2 separate regions of the Homo sapiens genome follow, and region 2 is linked to region 1. Evidence: fine-mapped QTL for protein levels in blood plasma. Region 1 holds a variant in brackets. A gene starts in the other region. All regions are shown on their forward strands.

Region 1 (5,365 bases):
TGGAAGGATCAGGCAGAGAGCTGGGGAAAGGCATTCCATTTGGCCAGAGCAGGCGGCTCCTCCAGCACTGAACTGTTTCCAGTACAAGTGGCGTTGAAGGGCAACAAGGAGTTTCATGCCATTCATAGGATTACAGATGGAGAGGAGGCTGGAGAGGGAGATGAGAGAGGGCGAGGACCTGAACCCAGCTCCTGGCAGTGGGAAGGGAAAAGGAGGAGATGGACTCAACATTGTGTTGGTTGTTTTTTTTTTTGAGATGGAGTCTTGCTCTGTCACCCAGGCTGGAGTGCAGTGGGGTGATCTTGGCTCACTGCAACCTCTGCCTCCCAGGTTCAAGTGATTCTCCTGCCTCAGCCTCCCAAGTAGCTGGGATTACAGGCATGTACCACCACACCTGGCTAATTTTTGTATTTTTACGAAAATACAAAACACAGGAGTGCTGGTCTCGAACTCCTGACCTTAGGTGATCTACCCGCCTCGGCCTCCCAAAGTGCTGGGATTACAGGTGTGAGCCACTGCGCCTGGCCTGTATTAGCTTTCTGTTGCTCCCTAACTAATACCACAAGTTTAGCCGGCTAAAACAATACCCATGTACTGGCTCATGGTCCTGTAGATCAGAACAGCAGGGTGTGGCTGGTTCTCTGTTTAGGGTGTCACAAGGCTGGACTCGGTGTGTCAACCAGACAGTTCTCATCTGGAAGCTTGGGGGAAAATTTTGCTTCCAGGCTCATTCTTGTGGTTGAAATAATTCGGTTCCTGCGATTGTAGAACTGAGGTCCCCATTTCCTTGCTGGCTGTCAGCTGGAGGCTGGGGGCCACGCTCAGCTCTTGGAGGTGGCCCACATTTCTTGACCGTACAGCCTCCATCTTCAAGCCAGCGACGGCACAATAGATCCTTTCTGTGCTTCAAATCTCTGACCTCCGTTTCTGATCTTGACACCCGGATTTAAAGGTTCAGGTAATTAGGTCAAGCTCAGCAGGACAGCCTCTCCTTTTGTGTTCAACTGTGCCATATAAAGTAACGTCACGTAATCGCATCATATTCACGGGCTCCCCACACGCGCAAGGGAGGAGATTACATGAGGGTTAGCGTCACTGGGGTTCTCTTACGATTCTGCCTTATATATTTTACAGGTGGAATTGAGAGATTTCTGACCAATTCTGGGTTTCTAGCTTGGACAGCCGGTAGGGGGCGGGGGGTGGTAACATATTTAACTAATAGAGAGAGAGTGCAAGGAAGAGGAGGAATTTGGTGAGTGTAAGGAGACTGTGTCCAGGCAGAGCTGGCTAGAAGGCCATGGAAGTGTGGCTCAGCCCAGCTGGATGAGATAACACACTGGTGGTGAAAGCAACAAGGGTGGAAAAGAAGGTCCAGCCAGGGAGTGGAAGATGAGAAGACAGGAGAGCTCAGAGAGGGAGAAAGCTGGCATGTCGACAGGCCTGATGAGGTCCAGGAAAGGCTCCCAAATGGGTATGGGCAGCTGAAATTGTGTGCAAAGCAGGTTGCTGAAGCGGAGGAAGGCGGGGCTGGAGAAGTGAGAATATCAGGCTGCCCGTCACTGTGGATGAATTAGGCATGAGCAACTGAGGTTCTCAGAGCAGCCAGTAAGGTGAATGGGAAAGGTACTGCTGTCCTGCTTTAAAGGAGAGGGCAGCCACCATGGCTCACGCCTGTAATCCCAGCGCTTTGGGAGGCAGAGGTGGGTGGATCGCTTGAGCCCAGGAGTTCGAGATCAGCCTGGGCAACGTGGTGAAACCCCATCTCTTTAAAAAAATAGAGCGCCACCCCCATAAAGGGTCGCACAGTTAGTGCATGTCAGAGCACCCAGGTCTTCTGAATGAGGTCAGGTTCTCCAAGGAGGAGGGCAGAACACTTCCTTTCCTTTGAATGAGTTGCTTAACGCTTTTGTAAGCCTTGGTTTTCTCATCTGTAAAATGGGGCTGATGATAATAGCTACCTCCAAGTGTTTTTGTGAGACTAGATGAGATAATGTTTTATAGTAGGTAGGTAAAATACTAAACATAGTGTCTGGCACATAGTGTTTAAAAAGTAACTGATATGATGATGGCTGTCATTCTGATTGTTAGTCTTATCTCTACAGGCCCCAGGCCTCCCCCAGATGTGTGGAGCTGTACCATCCAGAATGGTAGCCGCTAGGCACATGTGGCTATTTACTTATTTATATTTGTTTATTTTTAGAGATGGGGGGGTCTCACTATGTTGCCCAGGCTGGAGTGCAGCAGCTCTTCACAGGTGCATTCTTAGCGCACGACAGCCCAGGAGTCCTGGGCTCAAGCAGTCCTCTGACCTCGGCCTCCTGAGTTGCTGGAACTATGGGCATATGCACTACTGCACCCAGCACATGTGGCGATTTAAATTTACAATTTAATTAATTAAAATTTAATAAAATAAATTCAGTTCCTCAGCTGCACTGGCCCCATTTGCGTGCTCGTTAGCTCGTGGCTTGTCTTGTTGGACAGCGCAGATGGAGAACGTTTCCGTGACTGCAGGAAGTTCCACTGCAGAGCGCTGGCAGAGATGATGGTGGGAGGAGCAGGGCTCCCACTAACACCCTCCTGCCCCTGTTCCTCAGAAGCCCACCACGGGCCTGTTGGCCATCACGCTGGCCCTCCACCTCTGTGACTTGGTGCACATTGCCGGCTTTGGCTACCCAGACGCCTACAACAAGAAGCAGACCATTCACTACTATGAGCAGATCACGCTCAAGTCCATGGCGGTAAGTGCCTGGCTTGTGAGCATGGTGGGCCAGGGCGTGGACGGGCAGACAGTCAGAGGGGCACTGGGTGAGTGGGAGCAGTGCTGAGACCCAGAGGTGGCTCCCGCAGTCAGAACTGGAACCGAGGCACCTGGACTCCCTGGCCAGCATCCTCCATGTTCAGCCACATGGGCTTTGTCTTCCTTCCAAGAGCCAGCCTGGGGAAGGGAGCTCCCAAGAAGTGTGGGGCCATTGGGAGGGG[C/T]AGGGAGACTTTCCTGGGGACAGAGAGGTCCCTGGGAGTCCCTCAGTTTATTTCCTTGGCTGTCTCCACAGGGGTCAGGCCATAATGTCTCCCAAGAGGCCCTGGCCATTAAGCGGATGCTGGAGATGGGAGCTATCAAGAACCTCACGTCCTTCTGACCTGGGCAAGAGCTGTAGCCTGTCGGTTGCCTACTCTGCTGTCTGGGTGACCCCCATGCGTGGCTGTGGGGGTGGCTGGTGCCAGTATGACCCACTTGGACTCACCCCCTCTTGGGGAGGGAGTTCTGGGCCTGGCCAGGTCTGAGATGAGGCCATGCCCCTGGCTGCTCTTATGGAGCCGAGATCCAGTCAGGGTGGGGGCGCTGGAGCCGTGGGAGCCCGGCCAGGGCAGGGGGCTCGTTGCTGTGGCACCCCCTCTCTGCCAGCACCAAGAGATTATTTAATGGGCTATTTAATTAAGGGGTAGGAAGGTGCTGTGGGCTGGTCCCACACATCCAGGAAAGAGGCCAGTAGAGAATTCTGCCCACTTTTTATAAAAACTTACAGCGATGGCCCCACCAAGGCCTAGACACGGCACTGGCCTCCCAGGAGGGCAGGGGCATTGGGAATGGGTGGGTGCCCTCCAGAGAGGGGCTGCTACCTCCCAGCAGGCATGGGAAGAGCACTGGTGTGGGGGTTCCACCGAGAAGGGGACCTCATCTAGAAAAGAGGTTACAAACCTACCATTAAACTATTTTTCCTAAAACGGAAGCAGTTGTGATGTCCTGTGTCCTTTCAGGTGGGGGAAGGCATGGGACAGGGTGTGGCAGTGGGCAGGCTTGTTAGACCAGAGCAGGGCATGGTCACTCAGGAAATAATGACTTATTGAGTCCAGTGTTGGGTGCCCGGTCATGCATTATCACCCTGGCATAGCAGGAGAGTGAGTGGTGCTCACAGCACCCGTCTGCAGGCACCCAGCCTGGCACCCGGCACCCTGGGTTACTGCCCAGAGGAGGGAGGGGCTGGAGGATGCCAGACGAGAGTGCCAGAGTCCTCTCCCACCTTCCTTCCTCTCTTCCCCACCATTCTTCAGTTACCCAAATCTCATGCTTGGGAGGTATGTGTTTTAAGGACAGGGGTGGGGTCAGACAAAGAAAGCCAAGTTTCCCTTCTCAGATTAAGTGGGAACCAGAAAATGGAGTTTATGGAAGGTCTTGCCAGCGGCCCAGGCTGCCAGGATGGGATGGGCAGGCCTGGAGGGCAGTGTGGAAGGGATTTGGCAAGGCCTAACAGCCAGTTGCTGGGCCAGGGGATGAAACGGCTTCTTTCCTAGGTCTTTAGCATCCTAACAATCCTGCCGTTTGCCTGTCTCTCCCGCCTTCGTTCTCCATCTTCCCAGATCCTGCTTAGCTGCCAACTGGGCTTCCTGCCACCCCACAGCTGTTCCTTTACATCTGGAGCCAGGAGGGAGAGTTGGAACTCCCCACTTGGGGAATGGAACTGGCAGCTGTATTCCTGGCTTTCTCGGAAAGAGTTGCGGCCTTGAGGTTTTGAGACAAGCCAGGCTGGGACAGGACAGATAAAGAGGGGCAGCAGTTTGGGAGGAACAGAGGAAGATGACATGGTTCTCCACAGAGCGTTGGAATGGCCTTGTGGACACCCACTTCATCCCCCAGAATGGCCCCAAGGACCCTCCCAGGGAACAGAAGGGCTGCTCTCTCAGCAGCCTGGCTGCTTTGCCAGGGGAGAGGGGGGTTCTGAGAGCGAGTAGAGCCCCAGCATCTGCAGCCCCAAGCCCACTCCCCTCCACACGGGCAAACTTTGTCTTGAAGGCTGTGTCCTGGGGAGCGAGCTTGCAGACAGCAGGGGTTGTGAGCGTGTGGGGATCTCAACTCTGCTCACCCCGATGCGTCCCCAGCTGCCGCTCATGTGGAGATGCAAGGGAGTGTCCGTTTTCCCATCCGGGGCCATTGAGAATGGCTGTCTGCATACATGATCCAGCTGGCCTGGACTGAGGCCACTGCCTGTTACTGAACGTGCCTAAACTCAAGCTAGAATCCGGCACACAGGGGTGGGTCAGACCCGTCTAAACTCCACACACGCACACATGTAGATATGGGAGCATTTTACATTCTTGGTGGGTTGTTTGTGATTCTGTGTGCGGACAGTCCTTCCTGCTCACATACTGAGAAGACTGTGAATGCGGGGTGTGTGTATACCCAAATAGACCATTGTTTGCTTGGGGGGGTGGGGATAGCTTTCTCCAGGGTGCCCAACATCCTACGCAGATTGAGGCAATACTGGCCAAGGGTCGGAGCTGAGAATGGGGCTTTGATGTGGGGCTGTTGGATGGGGTTCTTTGGTTTTCTGGGAAAGGGACTTTCAGTCTTCAATTAGCCCAACCAACG
Region 2 (5,365 bases), not on the chromosome of region 1:
GCCAAAAGGCAATACTACTTCAATGGCCCTAGCTCTGGGAATGATACCAAATGATGGTTCAGGAGGGAGGGAGGGAGGCAGTAAATCAGCAGGAAAAGCTGAAAAATGCCCCAGCTTTTAATAGCTTTTATCTTTTTCCAGATGACTGGCCTCTCTCTCACCTTCTGCTTCTATTCATGATAGGGCCCTTTTCTCCCCTATTTTTGTGGCTTGATATTAGTATTTTCATTCGAAACGGCCGTCCTCAATTATCAGAGAGAAAATTCACACCTTTCAAAGCTACGGCAATCACATTTCCATGTGACTCATAAGTATATCTTCTTTCTCTAGCACCTAGGTGCAACTGTGGGATGCCTGATAGATTAGGATTGTATGTTGAATGGGAAATGGGTCTGAACCAAGTGTCAGACAGTAGAATGGGAGCCAGGGGAGGGTTCCAAAGCAGCAGCAGAAGGTATCTCTAGCAAGCATCCGCTCTGGCTGGGGACTGTCTTCTGGTTCCAGCCTTACTGGAAGCTCAGGCTGTAGAGTTGTGAATTCCTGGGGCCAGGCAAGCCTAGATGTGTTGCCTGCTTTTGATAATGTATCAAAAATATGAACTCATCCTTGGAAGCGACAGCTATGAGGTGTTTCTTGGATGTAGAAATTTAGGTCATCTGTCTTCCTTTTGCATTGCCTTAAAAAGTACGATTTCCTTTCTTGGTTTATCATTTGCTGGCCTTCTTTCTTTCCATCCTTCCTCCCTTCCTTCCTTCCTTCCTCCCTTTTTTCCTTCCCTAGACTTTCCCTATCTCCCTCTTTTCTTTCGTAAAATTTGGTTGCCTGGGATAACGTGTATTGCATACAAGCTGACTTCCTTACTGTCCCTAGTAAGCTATGTGTGGCTATTATTTCTTCATTTATATGCAATGCCAGAAGCTTAGAAGAATGTTATCTCCCTTTCAGTTAAAAACTCATAGTTAAGAACTGGCCATCTTCTTGTTTTGGGTATTGTGGCTTGGTACTGTCTAATATATTTGGAGGGTATTTGATTTTTTAAAAAGCTACTGGCCATGCCTATTGAGTTTCCTACTGAGCCCAGCACCCAGACCAGTGATTGATTAAATAGTAGCTGCTCAATAAATATTTGTTTTGTAAATAATGATTCTATTGTCAAGAAACAAATCACCAAGAAAGAAGGAGCTATATATTTAAGAGTACTCTGTTCATCTGGCCAAAATGGAGTTCCGAGTCCCTTGCTCAGCTGATGTTTGTTCACCCAGAAGATGGTAAACTCCTGAGACCAACTTCGCTTTGTTGTTCTCTTGTGGTTCCTTGACCTTGGAAATGTTTTTCTACAGGCAGAGTATTTCCCCCTGTTGGAATTTTATTTAATATTCTATCTTTGTTTCTACTTTAGAAAACATGCCACGTGAATAATGATGCCTCAGGCAAAAGAAATCACTCCAGCAGTACAATTTAAACTTAGGACAAATCCTGCCCTCACTTGCATTCACAATTTGCCAAGGCAGTTGGTAAGAACTGTGCCCACACACAAATTGACAGAATCGAGGCCCCAAGGTTAGCGATGATTAAAATTTAAAAGTCCATTCATTCATTTTCAAAATATTTTATTCGATTGCTTCTGAGGCAGAATCATGAGTTGCCTTCGCTTTTGCTGCTCCCGGTGGTGGCATCCAACTCTGAGGATAGCTCATCCAACTCTGAGGGTAGCTCTGAGGGGAGCTAAATATCCTCATTGTTCAATGAGCTAGATGAAAACAAAACGAGGCTGTAAGGTCAATCTCACAGCCTTAGTGGAGTAAAAATTAGAAGTCAATAATTCTCTTACCAACAAAGAGGACTTGCATTCAACAGGATTTTCAAAAGTGGTATCCTGTAAAAATTTTGGAAAATACCACCATAATGGAAAAAAAATAAAGTGGCATATAAATCAAATGTAGTGCTAAAAATTATAATTTTTCCATATGAATTTTGGAATCCTAAAATATTTTTATGTGTTTGTGGATTCATAAGGCATCAGAACTGGCTTTTTGCACTGAATATGAGTACAGAAGGCTTTCCTCTCCAATAGTGAATTAATAAAGGATAAGTAGGAAAAACGTTACGAAACGATGTGGTAACATTATAGACTCTGTATTAGGGCAAAAATTGTGAGATAGTAGAAGATCTGTAAATTTAAGCATGCACAATTTGACAGCGGATGGTCGTAGCATATTTTGTAAATTCAATAGCAAGCCCCACCACGCCCTTAAATGAAGGAAAGCAAGAAGACAATTTTTAATACGTACATGGCACCACACCCCTCTAAGACGCAGCAATGGGAGAAAAGCAGATTGGCGACCTGTGTGTGCAACATGAACCGAGTGAAACCATCGGGGAGGGGGTGGGGGGCGTTTCTTTTAAATGTCGCTTTTGCAGATAAACGAGCAGGGATCCTACCTCTTTTGACCGGAGATGTTGAAAAGCACGACCAAAGTTTTTGGCTTGGTCTCTTGCTTTCCACAACGAGATAAAGTCTGAAGCCTGTAACTCTCCCTGTCCCGCGGGAGCGTGCAAAGGGAGGGAAGATAAGCGGCGTGGGTGAGGGGTGGCGGCGCAGAACCCAGGAAGGGAGCAGAGGCGAGAGCCAGCCTCCGGCAGGAGGGCGTAGACCCCGGTGCCAGCCAGAACGGCTCCAGCCTTCCCGCGGCCAGAGAGCCAGCGGCGGGAGGGGACGGGCGGGACCTCCGCGGACAGCCCCGGGTGCGGACCAGCGGGCAGCGGCCGGCGAGACCCTCCCTGGATCCGCCCAGAGCTTACCGGACCCTGCGCGCCCCCGTCCCGGCTCCCGGCCGGCTCGGGGGAGAAGGCGCCCGAGGGGAGGCGCCGGACAGATCGCGTTTCGGAGGCGGCGCAGGTGTGTCAGGGGTGGGGGTCCGCTGGCATCTCTCGTGCCGGCGCTGGGGGGGTCTCCCGTGGAGGAAGGGCTGAAGGTGCTCCGGGAGGGGTCCACTCGTTATGGAAAGGAAGCGGGGCGCGGTCAGGGTCCCTCGTCCGCAGTGGGGGTGGTCCGGGCCCCTCAGCCTGCACCCGGGAGGAGACGCCCCCTTTTCACGCCCCGCCCCCGGTGGCCGAGGCCGGATTCGGACAGCTCGGGGTCAGTCGACGGAGCACACCGGGCGCCCGAATCCGCCGGGTCCCACTCACGCCCGCCGGCCGCCGGTAGGTTGGCCCTCCCGCTTCCAGCCTCCGCCACCCCATCCCTCGCTGCTCTCTGAGGAGGATTCCAGACCCCCCCGTAGATCTCCGCCCTCTCTCGGGTGGGGCTCCGAGGTCTAGCTGGTCTGGGGGTCAGTCCCGGCCTCTGTCTCCCACCGCGCCCCTCGCTCCCCTGGACACCGCCTGGTGTGTGGGGCTCAGACCCCCCCAGTCCACTGCCCCTGTGTGGCTCCTCCTCTCAGGAGAGGATTCTAGATCCCAGCCCGGGGGGGGTTCCGAAAATGCCGCCAGCCTGGAGCGGGGAATCCATGGACCGTGGGGTTGTGGGGTTGGGGAGCACGAAAACCCAGAGAGGGGCTAGAGCTCCACCTCCCCAGACCGCCGAGGGGCGAGAGGGCGCGCCGGGGGCCGTGGTTGCCATGGCTCCTGGTAGCGGAGCCCGGGGGGCTGGAGATGCCGGTCGCGGATGGTCCCTTCTTCCTCTTTGTGCCTCTCTCTTTCTCTCGCTTTTTTTTTTTTTTTGGAGTGTGAGTGTGCGTGGGGAGGCAGCACGGAGAAAGTGATTAATTTGGGGAGCAGGGATTGGAGCCGGGAGGCTGGGGAAAGCCAGCCCCTCCGTTCCCACTCTCCGGGCTCGCTGCGAGCCACAGTGTCTCAGCCAGGGGCAGGGCCGGGGAACTCCTGCGAAAAACCACGGGCCGGAGGAGCAGCAGCCGCGCGGGCCCAGGTACCCCCGCCCCAGACGGCCAGCAGGGTGGAGCGCAGGGTGGGCGTTTGGGCTGCTGGGCGGGAAGGCGGGCGGGGAAGGGGTGGGAGGCCGGCGGCGGAGGGCAGGTGTGCGTCGGCAGGGCTGGGTGGCCCGGCAGAGAGGGCGCCCCAGGTTCAGCCCCTCCTCGAAGGGCGCCGGCGTCCAGTCCCGCTCGTGGGAGCCGCGGAGCAGCCCCAGGGCCGGCGAGCGGCTGCCCTGCCAGGCGCGTGCGCGAGGGCGCGCTCCCGCGGGAACGCGCCGTGCGCGGGGAGATTTGCGCGTGCGCGTGGCGATGGTAACTGGTGGGCCCCCCGGGCTCGCTCTAGGCGGAGGCTCCCGGGACGCCCACGTGGCTTCGAATTCCAGCTCCACCATCACTGTGATGCGTCACTCTGGACTAGGCATTTAACTACGTGCCTCAGTTTCCCTTTCTCAATAATACGGAGATTATCGATACCCTCTATACTGGGTTGTTGCAAGACTGGAATGAGATGATACAAGTAATTTAACACCATAGATTTTTAAATTTAACACCATATGCATATTTGATGCATAATAAGCACTCAAAAGTTATTGTCGTTGATGCCATTACTGTTAGTTAATCCTCAGTTTAATTACATATGGTGCATTTTCATTTCTCTGCATTTTCATTGAAGTAAAAATTCTGCGTTTTCTAATTTTGGAGAATAATCTTAATTAAAATATGAATATTTGTACTGCACAGTCCAACTCCTACGAAGCTCTGCCTTGCAGCAGATTGGAAGAGAGAAACTGATCAACTGCCGATGAAGTTGGCTTTTCAGTATATTGATGGAGAGAGAAGCTTAGGAAGCTCTTTGGGGAAACTTTTGGTGACAAGAAAATAAAAAGTTTATCCCAGAGTTTTTCTTTTGTAAATCTTTGTGTTTTCTCTTTCACCTGCAGATGTTGCAGTTGGGTTTGTCTTAATTTCAGTCTCTTTGTGAGGGACCACCATTTGGCTTTCATAATTTAACGTGGTTACAGAGCCTATGTATACCCTGGCTTTCCATTTTATGGCCTTAAGTGCTGCAGTGGATTTACCTTTAGTAATGGCAGAACGTAGTGTATAATCATTCCTTGCAAGCTCCTGAATATTGTGAGCAAATCAATGGAGACAAATAGTTATTACTGGATGGGTGTGAGTACTGGCTATGGCAACTCATTAAAATCTCTTTCAGGGTATGTTTGTACCCACTTCACTGCAGCACAAGACTATGATGATGAATATATGTTTCCCAGATTGTTATCTGTTGCATGTAGACTTACGGATCCTTTTCTTCAAAGAAACGGCTATAGATATTTATTGATTCCTCATGGTTATATAGGTCCTCCAACCTATCTGCTGATAAGTACACTGTACACTTCGTGGGCCTAGCTGTAGGTCTAAGAGGAGTT

Direction of the effects. Positions count from the first base shown, and alleles are read on the strand shown. Strength reflects both the effect of a copy and how common the allele is.
For the plasma level of the protein whose gene starts at base 2,599 in region 2, C is the low allele of the variant in region 1 and T is the other (moderate association).

Evidence for each region. PIP is the chance, under the fine-mapping model, that this variant and not a neighbour inherited with it causes the effect. The UK Biobank Pharma Proteomics Project read protein levels with antibody pairs (Olink). The fine-mapping took linkage between variants from a reference panel, not from the people measured, so its PIPs are less certain.
Region 2: it holds the start of CHL1, and the variant in region 1 is fine-mapped to the plasma level of the CHL1 protein (UK Biobank, PIP 0.96).

Annotation. Positions count from the first base shown.
Region 1 is chr11:126,410,911-126,416,275 of GRCh38, forward strand. ST3GAL4 (ST3 beta-galactoside alpha-2,3-sialyltransferase 4) reads left to right here. Exons shown (of 11, transcript NM_001254757.2): 10 at 2,595-2,738; 11 at 3,051-3,728. The coding sequence ends at 3,137. Among named protein-coding and RNA genes, the nearest start is that of ST3GAL4, 58 kb to the left of the region's middle. The variant C/T (reference allele first, on the strand shown) is at 2,980.
Region 2 is chr3:194,165-199,529 of GRCh38, forward strand. CHL1 (cell adhesion molecule L1 like) reads left to right here and starts at 2,599. Exons shown (of 28, transcript NM_006614.4): 1 at 2,599-2,899. CHL1-AS2 (CHL1 antisense RNA 2) reads right to left here and starts at 3,177. Exons shown (of 4, transcript NR_144487.1): 1 at 2,803-3,177; 2 at 2,292-2,344; 3 at 1,832-1,876; 4 at 1,594-1,750.